Linked DNA regions of Homo sapiens. The protein of the gene in region 1 purifies or fractionates together with the protein of each later gene. This does not show direct contact. Each region holds a gene or a part of one and is shown in the gene's direction. Other genes may lie near its edges.

Region 1 (7,021 bases):
TTCCCACTCTTTATTACATCCATGCACAAAATATGTATTCACAAATACAGAAAATATGTTTGTGCAAGTATGGGATTATATAAGCACATCAGTATCATGTCAATACATATAAAACATTTTTAATGACTCCAAAATGTTACAGAAGGATGCATCAATTTTAAAATTAGTCCTTTGTTGATAGACATGTGGTATTTCCATTTTTTTTTTCCCCCTGAGATAGAATCTCACTCTGTTGCCCAGGCTGTAGTGCAGTGGCACGATCTCGGCTCACTGCAACCTCTGCCTCCCAGGTTTAAGTGATTCTCATGCCTCAGCCTCTGGAGTAGCTGGGACTACAGGCGCACACCACCACATCCAACTAATTTTTGTGTTTTTGGTATAAACGGGGTTTCGCCACGTTGGCCAGGCTGATCTTGAACTCCTGACCTCAAGTGATCCACCTGCCTCAGCCTCCCAAAGTGCTGGGATTATAGGCATGAGCCACCGTGCCTGGCCAAAGTTTTGTAATATGACAGAACACTGCAATGAACTGGAAGATAGGACTTTAAATTTGATCCTTTTGCTTGCTTTGTAGTTACTAAATAACCTTGATAGATGATGTTTTAGTAAATCTGTATTTGACTTTCTTATGGTTTTATTAGCTTGGCAAGTGTTGAAGAAAACAGTTCATTCTGAAAGAACACTTCTGAAAATGTACTAAAAGTTTAGCTAGGGAGGGGCACCCCACAATTGAAACCTTTATTTTTCAGTCTGTGCTCCCAAAGATTGGGAGCAAAAAAGGACATTTGGGGTGAGGGGATCATAGAGAAGAGAGGGTGAAAGGAAGAGAACTAATGCAAGTAAAGTGCTTGTTTTACACTTGGTTTGATGGGGAGGTTGGGCCACAAGAGGAGTATACTTAAAATAAAAATTAAATTAAAAGTTTTAGGCCAAGCGTGGTGGCTCACGCCTGTAATCCCAGCACTTTGGAAGTCAAGGCGGGTGGATCACAAGGTCAGGAGATCAAGACCATCCTGGCTAACATGGTGAAACCCTGTCTCTACTAAAAATACAAAAAATTAGCCGGGCATGGTGGCGGGCGCCTGTAGTCCCAGCTGCTTGGGAGGCTGAGGCAGGAGAATGGCGTGAACCCGGGAGGTCGAGCTTGCAGTGAGCCGAGATCGTGCCTCTGCACTCCAGCCGGGGCAACAGAGTGAGACTCAGTCTCAAAAAAAAAAAAAAGTTTTACACGCAGATTTTCCCAAAATTGTGTAAATCAGAAGGGTCTAAAAAAAAGTGAAAATCTCTCATTCTTTCTGGTCTCCAATCTCAGCACAACTTCTCGGGTTTTGTTTGTTTGGTTGGTTGGTTTTTTTTTTTTTTTTTTGAGATGGAGTCTCGCTGTGTCGCCCAGGCTGGAGGGCTGGAGTGCAGTGATGTGATCTCAGCTCACTGCAACCTGCGCTTTCCAGGTTGAAGTGATTCTCCTGCCTCAGCCTCTCAAGTAGATGGGATTACAGATGCGCGCCAACACCTCCAGCTAATTTTTGCATTTTTAGTAAAGCCAGAATTTTGCCATGTTGGCCAGGCTGGTCTTGAATTCCTGACCTCAAGTGATCCGCCCGCCTTGGCCTCCCAAAGTGCTGGGATTATAGGTGTGAGTCACTATTCCTGGCCATCAGCTCAACTTCTCTATGCACAAATGATTTATAGGAATAGAAGGAGCATACCGTACTGTACATACTGTGCTATGATTTATTTATCTTTTTTACCTAATCGATTCATAGTCAGTTTATAGAAATCTGTACAAACTTTTTTTTTTTTTTTTTGAGACGGAGTCTTGCCGTGTCGCCCAGGCTGGAGTGAAGGGGCGCTATCTCAGCTCGCTGTAAGCTCTGCCTCCCGGGTTCATGCCATTCTCCTGCCACAGCCTCCCAAGCAGCTGGGACTACAGACGCCCGCCACCATGCCCGGCTAATTTTTTGTATTTTTAGTAGAGACAGGGTTTAACCGTGTTAGCCAGGATGGTCTCGGTCTCCTGACCTCGTGACCCACCTGCCTCGGCCTCCCAAAGTGCTGGGATTACAGGCGTGAGCCACTGCGCCGACCCTGTACAAACTTTTATAGGGGGGTAATTGAACTAGTCCTCCCCACCACACCCCCCCCCCCTTTTTTTTTTAAAGAGACTGGGTCTGGCTGTCACCCAAGCTGGAGTGCAGTGGCAGGATCATAGCTCACCCCCAGCTAATTTTTTTTTTAGACGGAGCTCCCAAGTAGCTGGGGCTATGGCTAGGTTGCCACTATGCCTGGCCTGAACTACTCCCCTCTTCCCGCCCATCCCCGAACCCCAGATGAAGTCTTGCTCTGTCACCCAGGCTGGAGTGCAGTGGTGTGATCTCAGCTCACTGCAACCTCCGCCTCCCAGGTTCAAGCCTCCCAGGTTCAGCCTCCCAAGTAGCTGGGATTACAGGTGCCCGCCACCACACCCAGCTAATTTTTGTATTTTTAGTAGAGACGGGGTTTCACCATGTTGGCCACGCTGATCTCAAACTCCCGATCTCATGATCCGCCCGCCTTAGCCTCCCAAAGTGCTGGGTTTACAGGCGTGAGCCACCCTGCCAGGGCCTGAACTACTCCCCTTTTTGATAGATGTTGAAATTAACATTGTTTTACCATGCTAAACAATGTTCCAGTGAATATTCTAGTACATAAAATAGCTTTGTGCACTTTAGCTGGTAGGTGCAGGGCAAATTCCTAGAAGTAAATTGCTAGGTCATATGGCAAATACATTTAAAATTTTGATATGTTTTGCCAAATTACCCACCAAAAATATTATATCAATTTATATTCCTTTGAGATACAAAATTCAAATAATATAGAGAGGTGTAAAATAAAAAGAAAAGTTCTCTTGTCCCCAGCTATTCTACTCCACAGAGCCAGCCACTTTTTATTGTTTGGTGGATATCCTTCTAGACTTCAGATTTTGCAAATTGTACATTATAATTTTTTTTTTTTTTTTTTTTTGAGACAGAGTCTCACTCTGTTGCCAGGCTGAAGTGCAGTGGCATGATCTCGGCTCACTGCAACCTCTGCCTTCTGGGTTCAAGCGATTCTCCTGCCTCAGCCTCTGGAGTAGCTGGGACTACAGGCGCGTGCACTACACTTAGCTAATTTTTGTATTTTTTAGTAGAGATTGGGTTTCACCATGTTGGTCAGGATGGTCTCGATCTCTTGATCTCAGGATCCACCCGCCTCGGCCTCCCAAAGTGCTGGGATTACAGGTGTGAGCCACCATGCCTGGCCAGTTTCTTTTTTCAATTGACTGTATATTGTGGCTGTCTTTCCATTTCAATATTATTGGCTACTATATTGTCTACCCTTAGTAGTAGGGACTACGTCAGGGACATGCTAAGTTAGGAATAGAAATAAGGAGCTGTTTGTCTGTAACTGAGTGGGGGGATGCTGCCTTGAGCATCTGTGAGTGTGTATTTTCACACACTTGGGCAATAATTGTTTATTACAGCCCTAGAAATGGGAATGTAATTGTAGCCAGGCACTTTATTTGTGTTTAAACTTCATTTGTGCATTTAGTCTCTCCTCAACTCTGTGAAATAGAAATGATTTTACCTGGTTGACAATTGGGAGCTGGGATAGCATCGGTTCTCTAGACAAGCTCTGTGAGTTTTGGTGAGTGGTAAGGACCCTGTACAGAGTCAGAGCAAATGCACTGGGCAAGGGCTTCAGGGACCTTCGAGTAGCATCTTGACATTTACCAGTGTTATAGAACAGTTAATATCAACAATAGTTTTGATGGAGACCATTAAAGGTTATGTGTTGAAATATTCTAAGAAAAAGTTCCTTTTTAAAAAAAAATTGTTATATTGCCATTCCTTGCTCCTTTTTTGGTCTTTATTTTAGCATTCTTATTTAAAACAGATTTTGAGCACTCTTTATGTGAGCTTTCCTGACTTGGTACATGCTTATTTTTATGGAGAATTTTAATCTTATAGAAATATACTATTATAGTGAATTAAGTGTATCCACCACTCAACTTCAATAATTATTAACTGTTGGCTAATCTTGTTTCATCTATTCCCAAACTCACCTCCCACTCCTCTTCCCTGTTATTTCTTTTCTGTTTTTTTCCCTTTCCTATGATGCCAAGCCTGTGTTTTTTTTTTAACAGCTTTACCAAGAATTCCATATCAGATAATTTGCACACCATACAATTCACCCCTTTAAACTGTACAATTTAGTGGCTTTTAGGATGTTCATAGAATTATTCAACCATTACCACAATTTTAGAACATTTTTATTACCCTGGAAGAAACAGTTTAGCTGTCATTCACCAATCTTCTGGTCTTAGCCCTTGGCAAACACTAATCTACTTTCTATTTATGGATTTGCCTATTGTAGACATTTGATAGAAATGGGATAATGTGTTGTCCTCTGTGACTGGCTTCTTTCACTTAGCATAATCTTTTGGAGATTCATCCATGTATCTATGTATCAGTACTTTTTTTTTTTTTTGAGACAGAGTCTTGCTCTGTCACCCAGGCTGGAGTGCAGTGGTGCAATCTCTGCAACCTTTGCCTCTAGTTTCAAGTGATTCTCCTGCCTCAGCCTCCTGAGTAGTTGGGACTGTGGGCCCACACCACCACCTCTGGCTAATTTTTGTATTTTTAGTAGAGACTGGGTTTCACCATGTTGGCCAGGCTGGTCTTGAGCTCCTGACCTCAGGTGATCTGCCTGCCTCAGCCTCCCAAGTACTTGATTTTTGAAAACAGCCAAATAATATTCCATTGTATGGATATACTGCTTTTTATTTCTTTTCAATTGTTGATGGACATTTGGATTGTTTCCACTTTTTTTTCCTTTTTTTGAGACAGGGTCCTGCTCTGTTGCCCAGGCTGGAGTGCAGTGGTGTAATCTCTGACCTCCTAGGTTCAAGCTGTCCTCCTGCCTCAGCCTTCCTAGTAGTGGGACTACAAGTGTGCACCACTATGCCTGGCTAATTTTGTAAAATGTTTGTAGAGATGGGGTTCTGCTCTGTTGCCCAGGCTTGTCTCAAATTCCTGGCCTCAAGCACTTCTCCCATCTCATCCTCCCAAAGTGATAGGATTACAGGTGAGCACCACTGTGCCCAGCCCACTTGTTGACTGTGGGCTGGGCACAGTGCTATATTATAATGCTGCTATGGCTGGGCGTGGTGGCTCACGCCTGTAATCCCAGCACTTTGGGAGGCCGAGGTGGGCGGATCACAAGGTCAGGAGATCGAGACCATCCTGGCTAACACTGTGAAACCCCATCTCTACTAAAAATACAAAAAAAAAAAAAAAAAAAAAAAATTAGCCAGGCGTGGTGGCAGGCGCCTGTAGTCCCAGCTACTGGGGAGGCTGAGGCAGGAGAATGGCATGAACCCGGGAGGCGGAGCTTGCGGTGAGCCGAGATCGCGCCACTGCACTCCAGCCTGGGCGACAGCGAGACTCCGTCTCAAAAAAAAAACAAAAACAAATAATGCTGCTATGAACATTTGTGTACAGGTTTTTGTGTGGACTCCTGCATACCTGGGAGTGGAGCTACTGGGTCATATAGTAACTTTTTTTTTTTTTTTTTTTTTTGAGACGGAGTCATGCTCTGTTGCCCAGAGTGCAATGGCACAGTCTAGGCTCACTGCAACCTCCGCCTCCCAAGTTCAAATGATTCTCCTGTCTCAGCTTCCCGAGTAGCTGGGACTATAGGCGTGTGCCACCACACCCAGCTAATTTTTGTATTTTTAATAGAGATGGGGTTTCACCATGTTAGCCAGGTGGGCTCAAAACCCCGACCTCGTGATCTGCCTGCCTCAGCCTCCCAAATTGCTGGGATTACAGGCGTGAGCCACTGCGTCCAGCCATATAGGAACTCTTTAACCATTTGAGGAACTGCCAGATAATTTCCCACAATAACTGTACCTTTTATTTTATTTTATTTTATTTATTTTAAATAGACATGGTTTCACTCTGTCGCCCAGGCTGGAGTGCAATGGCGTGATCTTGGCTCATTGCAACCTGTGCCTCCCGGTTCAAATGATTCTCCTGTCTCACCCTCCCAAGTTGCTGGGATTATAGGTGTATGCCACCACACCTGACTAATTTTTGTATTTTTAGTAGAGATGGGGTTTCACCATGTTGGCCAGGCTGGTCTCGAACTCCTGACCTCAGGTGATCCACCCACCTCGGCCTCCAATAGTGCTGGGATTAGAGGTGTGAGCTACTCTGCCCAGCCGTGCACCAGTTCGTATTCCTACCAGCAGTGTCTGAGAGTTTCAATTCCTGTGGTTGTGAAATAAATCTCAGATATAATTTCATCCTAAAGTATTTTAGAATGTATTAATAAAGTATGAGGGATTTCTTTTTCAAATATAAACATAATGCCATTATAGTATCTACTAACATTAATTTTTAATATAATCAAATATTCAGTCAGTATTCAAATTTCTTTCTTTTTTTTTTTTTTTTAATATAGAGACAGGGGCCTCACTCTGTCACCCAGAGTGGAGTGCAGTGGCACAATCTCACTGAATCATTGAACTCCTGGTCTCAAGTGATCTTCCTGTTTCAACTTTCCAAGTATCCAGGACTACAGGTGTGCGCCACCATGCCTGGCTAATTTTTTTTTTTTTTAATTTTTTGTAGAGACACGGTCTTGCTATGTTGGCCAGGCTGGTCTCAAACTCTTGGCCTCGAGCAATCCTTCCACGTCAGCCTCGCAAAGCACTGGGATTATAGGCATGAACAACCGTGCCTGGCTTTGTGTTCAAATTTCTAATTGTCTTATAAATGTTATTTTAGGCCGGGTGCAGTGGCTCATGCCTGTAATTCCAGCACTTTGGGAGGCTCAGGTGGGCAGATCACTTGAGATCAGGAGTTCGAGACCAGCTTGACCAACATGGTGAAACCCCATCTCTACTAAAAATACAAAAATTAGCTGGATGTAGTGGTGTGCACCTGTAATCCCAGCTCCTTGGGAAGCTGAGGCAGGAGAATTGCTTGAACCTGGG
Region 2 (7,040 bases), on another chromosome or scaffold:
AGAGCCTTCTCCTGTTCTGGACCCTACTTCTGGTACCAAAATCCGTATTAGTCAGGGTTCTCTAGAGGATATATATATATATATATATATCCTATTACTTCCTTATATACGTGTGTGTGTGTGTGTGTGTGTGTGTGTGTGTGTGTGTAGGGGAGTTTATTAAGTTTTTTTTTTTTTTTTTTTTGAGAAAGAGTCTCGGTCTGTCACCAGGCTGGAGTGCAGTGGCGTGGTCTCCGCTCACTGCAACCTCCGCCTCCCAGGTTCAAGCGATTCTCCTGCCTTAGCCTCCCGAGTAGCTGGGACTACAGGTGTGTGCTACCACGCCCAGCTACTTTTTGTATTTTTAGTAGAGATGGGGTTTCACCACGTTGGCCAGGATGGTCTCCATCTCTTGACCTTGTGATCCGCCTGCCTCGGCCTCCCAAAGTGCTGGGATTACAGGCATAAGCCACCGCGCCCAGCCTATTAAGTATTAACTCACATGATCACAAGGTCCCATAATAGGCCATCTGCAAGCTGAGGTGCAAGGAGAGCCAGTCCAAGTCCCGAAACTGAACCTGGAGTCTGATGTTGGAGGGCAAGAAGGGGATAAACGCACAGGAGAAGGATGTAGGCTGGGAGGCTAGGCCAGTCTCATCTTTTCAGGTTTTTCTGCCTGTCTTATATTCACTGGCAGCTGATTAGATGGTACCCACTCAGATTAAGGGTGGGTCTGCCCTTCCCAGCCCACTGACTCAAATGTTAATGTCCTTTGGCAATACCCTCACAGATACACCCAAGACCAATACTTTGCATCCTTCAATACCATCAAGTTGACACTCAGTATTAACCATCACAAGCCCTATGAAATAAAAAGTTTTATGACCCCTTTCTTCCCAGAATTATGAATGCCAATTTACTTGCTCTACATTTACGCAACTTCCATGACCTGGGGTAGGTAGGTATGCAATGTTGTGTTACTTCCCCATTGTCCATATCCACTTGTGTCCCTGGCCATGGCCAACTAATTTACAGGTTGAAACATTTCCCAGCACCTTGGAAGGCTGTGTGGTGGGAGGATTGCTTGAGGTGAGGAGTTCAAGACCAACCTGGGCAACATAGTGAGACCCCTGTGTCTATAAAAAGTAAAATTAGCCAGGTGTGGTGGCACATGCCCGTGGTCCTGGCTACTTGGGTGGCTGAGCCCAGGAGGTTGAGGCTACAGTGAGCCATGATCATGCTGCTACACTCCAGCCTGGGTGACAGAGCAAGATCTTATCTCAAAAAAACAAAACAAAACGAAACACATTGTACTAGACTGTCTTAGTATTTGAAGCTTGAACAGATACACAGAAAAGACAGGGAAGCCACCTACAATGCATTCTAGAAAGATCATGCTGCTGAGGATCATGGAAGCACCTTAGTTCCCATTGTCAAGCTTAGTTGTTCAGCTCTTCCTTAAGTTATATAAACTATCCCAGAATTCTTCTAAATTCTCCAACCCCTTTAATTTGGTTTAAATTAGCCAAATTACATTAATGTTGCATATAACCAAAACTTAAGGGATATAAATTGGTTGGGAGAATGTGTTGTAACCAGTAGTCTGTCAGGAAACTGTTGCATTTTTAGGTAGTTTTATCAAGCTGAGAAGGGGTGAAATGAGTGAGACTTACCTGACTTTCAAGACATCTATTTTTCAAACCATTTGTTTTCACTTCTTTACTGTGTTATCACCATCCTCCCAGGACTTTACACCAGAAATCTGAAGGTCACCACTGATACCATCTTCCCCCTTTGCTCCTACATCTAATCATTAGTTACATCTGCCAGGTTCCATATCTTGAGTATGTCTTTTCATTTCTACTATTACTGCCTTAGTTCAGGTTACTACTTTTCTTACACATTACATTACTATGGGCTTTTAAATGGCTTCTGTGCCTTTATCTACTCACAAACTATTCTTCATGCTGCAGTCAGAAGTGTTCTAAGCCAAAATTATTCACCTTCCAAAATGAAGATCTAATTATGTTCACAAGTCCTCTCCTTCACCCATTCCTCACCTCTAGCATTAATCTAACACTAGGTTAATCAAGGTAATGGGGTAGAAGGTCATGGGTAACTCCAAATCACACTTTAAATGAACTCTAGTCAAAGTACTGAATACAATGGATTTAAACTTGCTTGGTAAAACTACCTCTAATAATTTAGGAATATATTTGCCTTCTGTGAAAGCCATCGCAAAGTATAAAAATAGTGTAAGTACAGGTATTTAGGCTCACAAAATATCGTTATGACTGAAAAATTGGCAAAGGTTTTTTGTTTGCTTTGCCTCTTCGTTGAGCTCTCTTTCCGTAACAAATGGAAATAGAAGCACACAAATTCAAGAAAGGAGGCTCTAACAGACTGAAGATATTGTGGCTTTCAAAAAGGAGAGAACATTTTAGATGATATGAAGGAAATGTCACCCCGTTACTAAGAATTCACTCTATTCGACAGATATATACACGCTTCAGCAAGTGCTCCTAAGGATGAGAGGAGAGTAAGTTATTTTCATCTAACAGTCTCTATCAACACTCTTCTTAAAACACCTAATGCTTAACAACAGTCTAAAGAACACACTGGCTACTCATACCTCCCATAGGCAGAGACCTTGTCCTTTTTGAGCTGCTGTATCTCAGGTAATCAGCAATCACTTAGTGGATGATAATAATTTGCAAATTCCTCTGGAGCCTCTAAAGACCGTATCATGAATCATCAATTCAAATGCCTACAGGAGTCGGGCAGGTGATATGCAGGAGGAAATAGAGTCATTTAGGGCCCATAACAAAGGGGAGAGAGGCCGGGCGCGGAGGCTCACGCCTGTAATCCCAGCACTTTGGAAGGCCGAGGCGGGCCAATCATTTGAGGTCAGGAGCTCGAGACCAGCCAGCCCAACATGGCGAAACCCCGTCTCTACTAAAAACACAAAAAAATTAGCCAGGCGTGGTGATGCATGCCTGTAGTCCCAGCTACTCCGGAGGCTGAGGGAGGAGAATCACTTGAACCCGGGAGGCGGAGGTTACAATGAGCCGAGATCCGCGCCACTGCACTTCAGCGTGGGCGACAGCGAGACTCCGTCTCAAAAAACAAAACAAAAACAAAGGAGAGAGTACATAAGCCATCTCCAGGCTAGTTTCTTTAACTAGTCTTCATATAATAATCTCCTCAAGGTCCTGTTCTATCCCTACAAAATACAAAACAGTTCCTCGTGTCTTCCTTCAAATATACTACAGTCTTTAGCTCATCAGAGTAGCTGAGTTAGTCCAAGGCATAATCCCAAAAGCGAAACTGAATGTCAGAATTGATCTCATTTCAACACTCATTCCAGAAGTAGAAACTTCTGCAAGTTCAGCTTTTGACTATGAATTCTTCAGCGCGACTTTTGCAGAGAGCTCTGTTCCAAGAAGCTGGCGCCTTAACACAAGCTATCTACCGATGCACAAGGGAAGGCTGGCTTGGGTCCAGATTCGGCGGGAGAGTGGAAACGCGACGCTGGCCGACTTCAGCCACAAAGGCAATTTCTGCCCAGGGCTAGCGTTCCTAAGAGGGGGCCGAGAGAACGCCAGGCTCGGGCGTAGGGGCAAGAAGACCCAGAGCTAACGCACCTCTCGGAGGGCCCAAGCTCAGGGCTCAGTCACCCTCCCAGCTCGGAGCCGGCGCTGGAACACAGCGGCGCGAGGAGAAACCCCTAGAGACAGGGAAAAGGTGGACGTAGCGGCTGACGCTGCCCAGACGCTAGGCGCCGACAGGAGCCTGATTGTCACCGTACGACCAGTGAGGGGGCGGGGCGGAGCTGTGCCTCAAAGCGCCTGCGCGGAGAGCCTGCAATCAGGGACCAGGCTTGGGAGGCGACGAAGAGGAACGCTGGGCGCAGGAGGCCCACTGCATACGCAGGCGCACTCGGCGATCCCGGCTTTTCCGCGCGCAGTTCCCGCACAGGCATCGGGGGGGGCAGGGGCGGGGCAGGGGCGGGGATAAATGCGGAGGGACGGTCCAGCTTTAGCTCTCTGCTCGCCGCCGCCGCTGTCGCCGCCACCTCCTCTGATCTACGAAAGTCATGTTACCCAACACCGGGTAAGGGGGTAGGGGCGGCGCGGGGAGAGACCCTGTCGGGCGAAGGGCGCGTCTCGGTGGGGCCGCCGCGGATCGCCCGGGCTGGCCGGCCCGGCTGTGGGAGGTCAAGGATACTGCCTGGGCACGCTCTGAGCTCTGGTCCGCGCTGGGCACTGTGCACCGAGAATCTGCGGTAACGTGTGAAAAGGAACACAAACTTTTGTATTACAGGATGGCAGCAGTGTAGAAACCTTTTCCACGGGTAAAGGGCCGAGGGGGAGTCACCACGCCGCCCCCAGTGCCGGCCCTCCCTGAGTTTAGCAGGAGTGCGTGCCTGGCCGAATGCGTGTGAGTTCTAGGTGAAAGGTCGCAGGAGCAGCTCCAGAGTTTAAAGAGTTTTCACTTGTTCCTGACGCTCAATTCTAGAGTAATAATGGAGTGTTTAAAAAATGATTTCCAAATTAGAAACTAAACCGATCTTAAAACATGGGTATCTTTGGGGGATTTTTTTTTCACCTTAAAAAATTGTGTTAAAATACGTACAAAATCTGCCATCTTAACCGTTTTTTAAGTGTACACTTCAGTAGTGTTAAGTAGATTCATATCGTTGTGCAGTCAATCTCCAGAACTTTTTTCATCTGCAAGCTGAAACTCTATCCATGAAACAACTCCTCTTCCCCACCTCCGCTCGTACATTGGCAACCACCATTCTACTTTCTGGTTTATGTAAGGTCTGGGTATCTTGAGTTGAGTGACGTGTTGTCAGATTTTGTAATTTGCCTGAAACATGCAGGCATATAGCCAAAGACTTAAAACAGTTCAAAGAGTATAGGGTAAAAAGTGAGTCTCCCCATCCCTAAAATCTAGTTCCCCAGTTACTTACGTTTCTATTTCGTGCATGTATGAACATAATTTGTATACATCCGGATACACACACACACACACACACACACACACATACCCTTTCTTAAAAATAGCAGCAGACTCTATTCTTGGTCTTGCTACTTTTAGTTGGTATGTCTTGGGACATTCTTTCTTTGTTTTTTTTAAAGACGGGGTCTCCCATGTTGCCCAGACTGGCCTGTAGCCTTGAACTCCCAGGCTGATGTTCCTCCCTTCTTAGCCTCTGGAGTATTTAGGATTACAGGCATGCACCGCTGTGCCCAGGGACATACATTTTTAGTACATGGCAGATCTTCCGCCTCCTTTTTTTTTCTTTTGAGATGGAGTCTCGCTCTGTCTTCCAGTCTGGAGTGCAGTGGCATGATCTCGGCTCACTGCAGCCTCCGCCTCCCGCAATTCTCCTGCCTCAGCCTCCCGAGTAGCTGGGACTTCAGGCGCGTGCCACCACGCCCTGTTGATTTTTTTGTATTTTTAGTACAGACGGGGTTTCACCATGTTAGCCAGGATGGTCTCAATCTCATGACCTCGTGATCCGTCTGCCTCGGCCTCCCAAAGTGCTGGGATTACAGGCGTAAGCCACTGCGCCTGGCCCCTCCTCCTTTTTAATGGTTGCATAATATTCTGTAACAGCTTGAGTATCCATTATCCAAAATGCTTGGTTCCAGACGTGTTCGGATTTCAGATTTTCAGATTTGGTTTGCTCAACCTGTATATGAATATACCTTTGTTTATTTAACCTGTTCCCTATTGTTGGATACTAGACTGTTTCCAGTTTTTTGGATACTCTTTTTTTGCTTCCATAATTATACTTGTATTTATCTATTTGCACATATATAAGTGTATATGTAGGATAAACTCCTGGAAGTGAAATTGCTGGATCAAAGAGTAAATGTGGCTGGGCACAGTGGCTCACGCCTGTAGTCCCAGCACTTTGGGAGGCCGAGGCGGGCGGATCACTGGAGGTCAAGAGTTCGAGACCAGCCTGGCCAACGTGGTGAAACTCCGTCTCCACTAAAACTACAAAATTACAAAAATTACAAATACAAAAATTAGCTGGACCTGGTAGCGGGCACCTGTAATCCCAGCTACTCAGGAGGCTGAGGCAGGAGAACCGCTTGAACCTGGAGGCGGAGGTGGCAGTGAGCCGAGATCATGCCACTGCCCTGCCCTCCACCCTGCGAGAGAGAGTGAGAGTCTGTCTCAAAAAGAAAAAAGAGGAAATGCACTTTATATTTTGACAGATATTTCCAGATGACCCCCCAGAAGGGTTGCACACCCAAAAGGATAAATGAGATCCTCTAATCCCACTTGTTGGCTAACCGCAAAATAGTTAATGATGAAAATCTAATTAGAGAAAAAAGTGTCACCTCATTATTGTTAAAATTTGCATTTATTTTATCACAAGTGTGGATTTGGATCTCTTTGTGTATTTAAACCAGGGACAATTTGATCCCCAGAGGACATTTGGTAATATCTCAAGACATTTTTGATAGTCACAATTGAATGGAGATGCTAATGGCATCTCGTGAGTAGAGTACAGGGATGCTGGTGCACATCCTACAATTCACAAGCATTCCGTACAACAAAGAATTATGTAGTCCAAAAGGTCAGTAGTGCAGAGGTTGAGAAACCCTGGTTTAAAGCCATCTATGTATCTTTATATTTGTCTGGCTTAACAAATGAGGTTTTTCGTTAATCTCTGAGGGCTCTGTGTATTTTAAAAATTTGTCTTTTATCACATTACAAATATTTTCCACAGTTTTTCATGTTGCATCTGGACTTTGATTATACTGTTTATTTAACATGGAGAAACATGTTTTTGTGAAGCCAGAGTTATCAGTCTCTTAAGGCTTTTGCATTTTTGAGTTAAACCAAGATCTTTTTTTTTTTTTTTGAGATGGAGTCTTGCTCTGTAAGCCTTTGAGTTAAACCGAGATCTTTCTTTCTGTCTTTCTTTTTTTTGAGATGGAATCTTGCTCTGTATGCCTTTGAGTTAAACCGAGATCTTTCTTTCTGTCTTTCTTTTTTTGAGATGGAATCTTGCTCTGTTGCCCAGGCTTGAGTGC

Evidence for each region. Proteins that work in one complex are often made in the same cells at the same time.
Region 2: the proteins of F2RL1 (region 1) and HSDL2 purify together in Homo sapiens (affinity purification with mass spectrometry; 2 studies listed by BioGRID and IntAct, with this or other methods). This does not show direct contact.

The regions. Positions count from the first base shown.
Region 1 is NC_000005.10:76,822,023-76,829,043, forward strand, and holds part of F2RL1 (proteinase-activated receptor 2 preproprotein), read left to right. Parts: intron 1-7,021. UniProt on the Homo sapiens protein: Receptor for trypsin and trypsin-like enzymes coupled to G proteins.
Region 2 is NC_000009.12:112,376,089-112,383,128, forward strand, and holds the start of HSDL2 (hydroxysteroid dehydrogenase-like protein 2), read left to right. Parts: upstream 1-4,019; 5' UTR 4,020-4,075; coding exon 4,076-4,092; intron 4,093-7,040. UniProt on the Homo sapiens protein: Has apparently no steroid dehydrogenase activity. Controls bile acid (BA) and lipid metabolism in response to nutritional cues.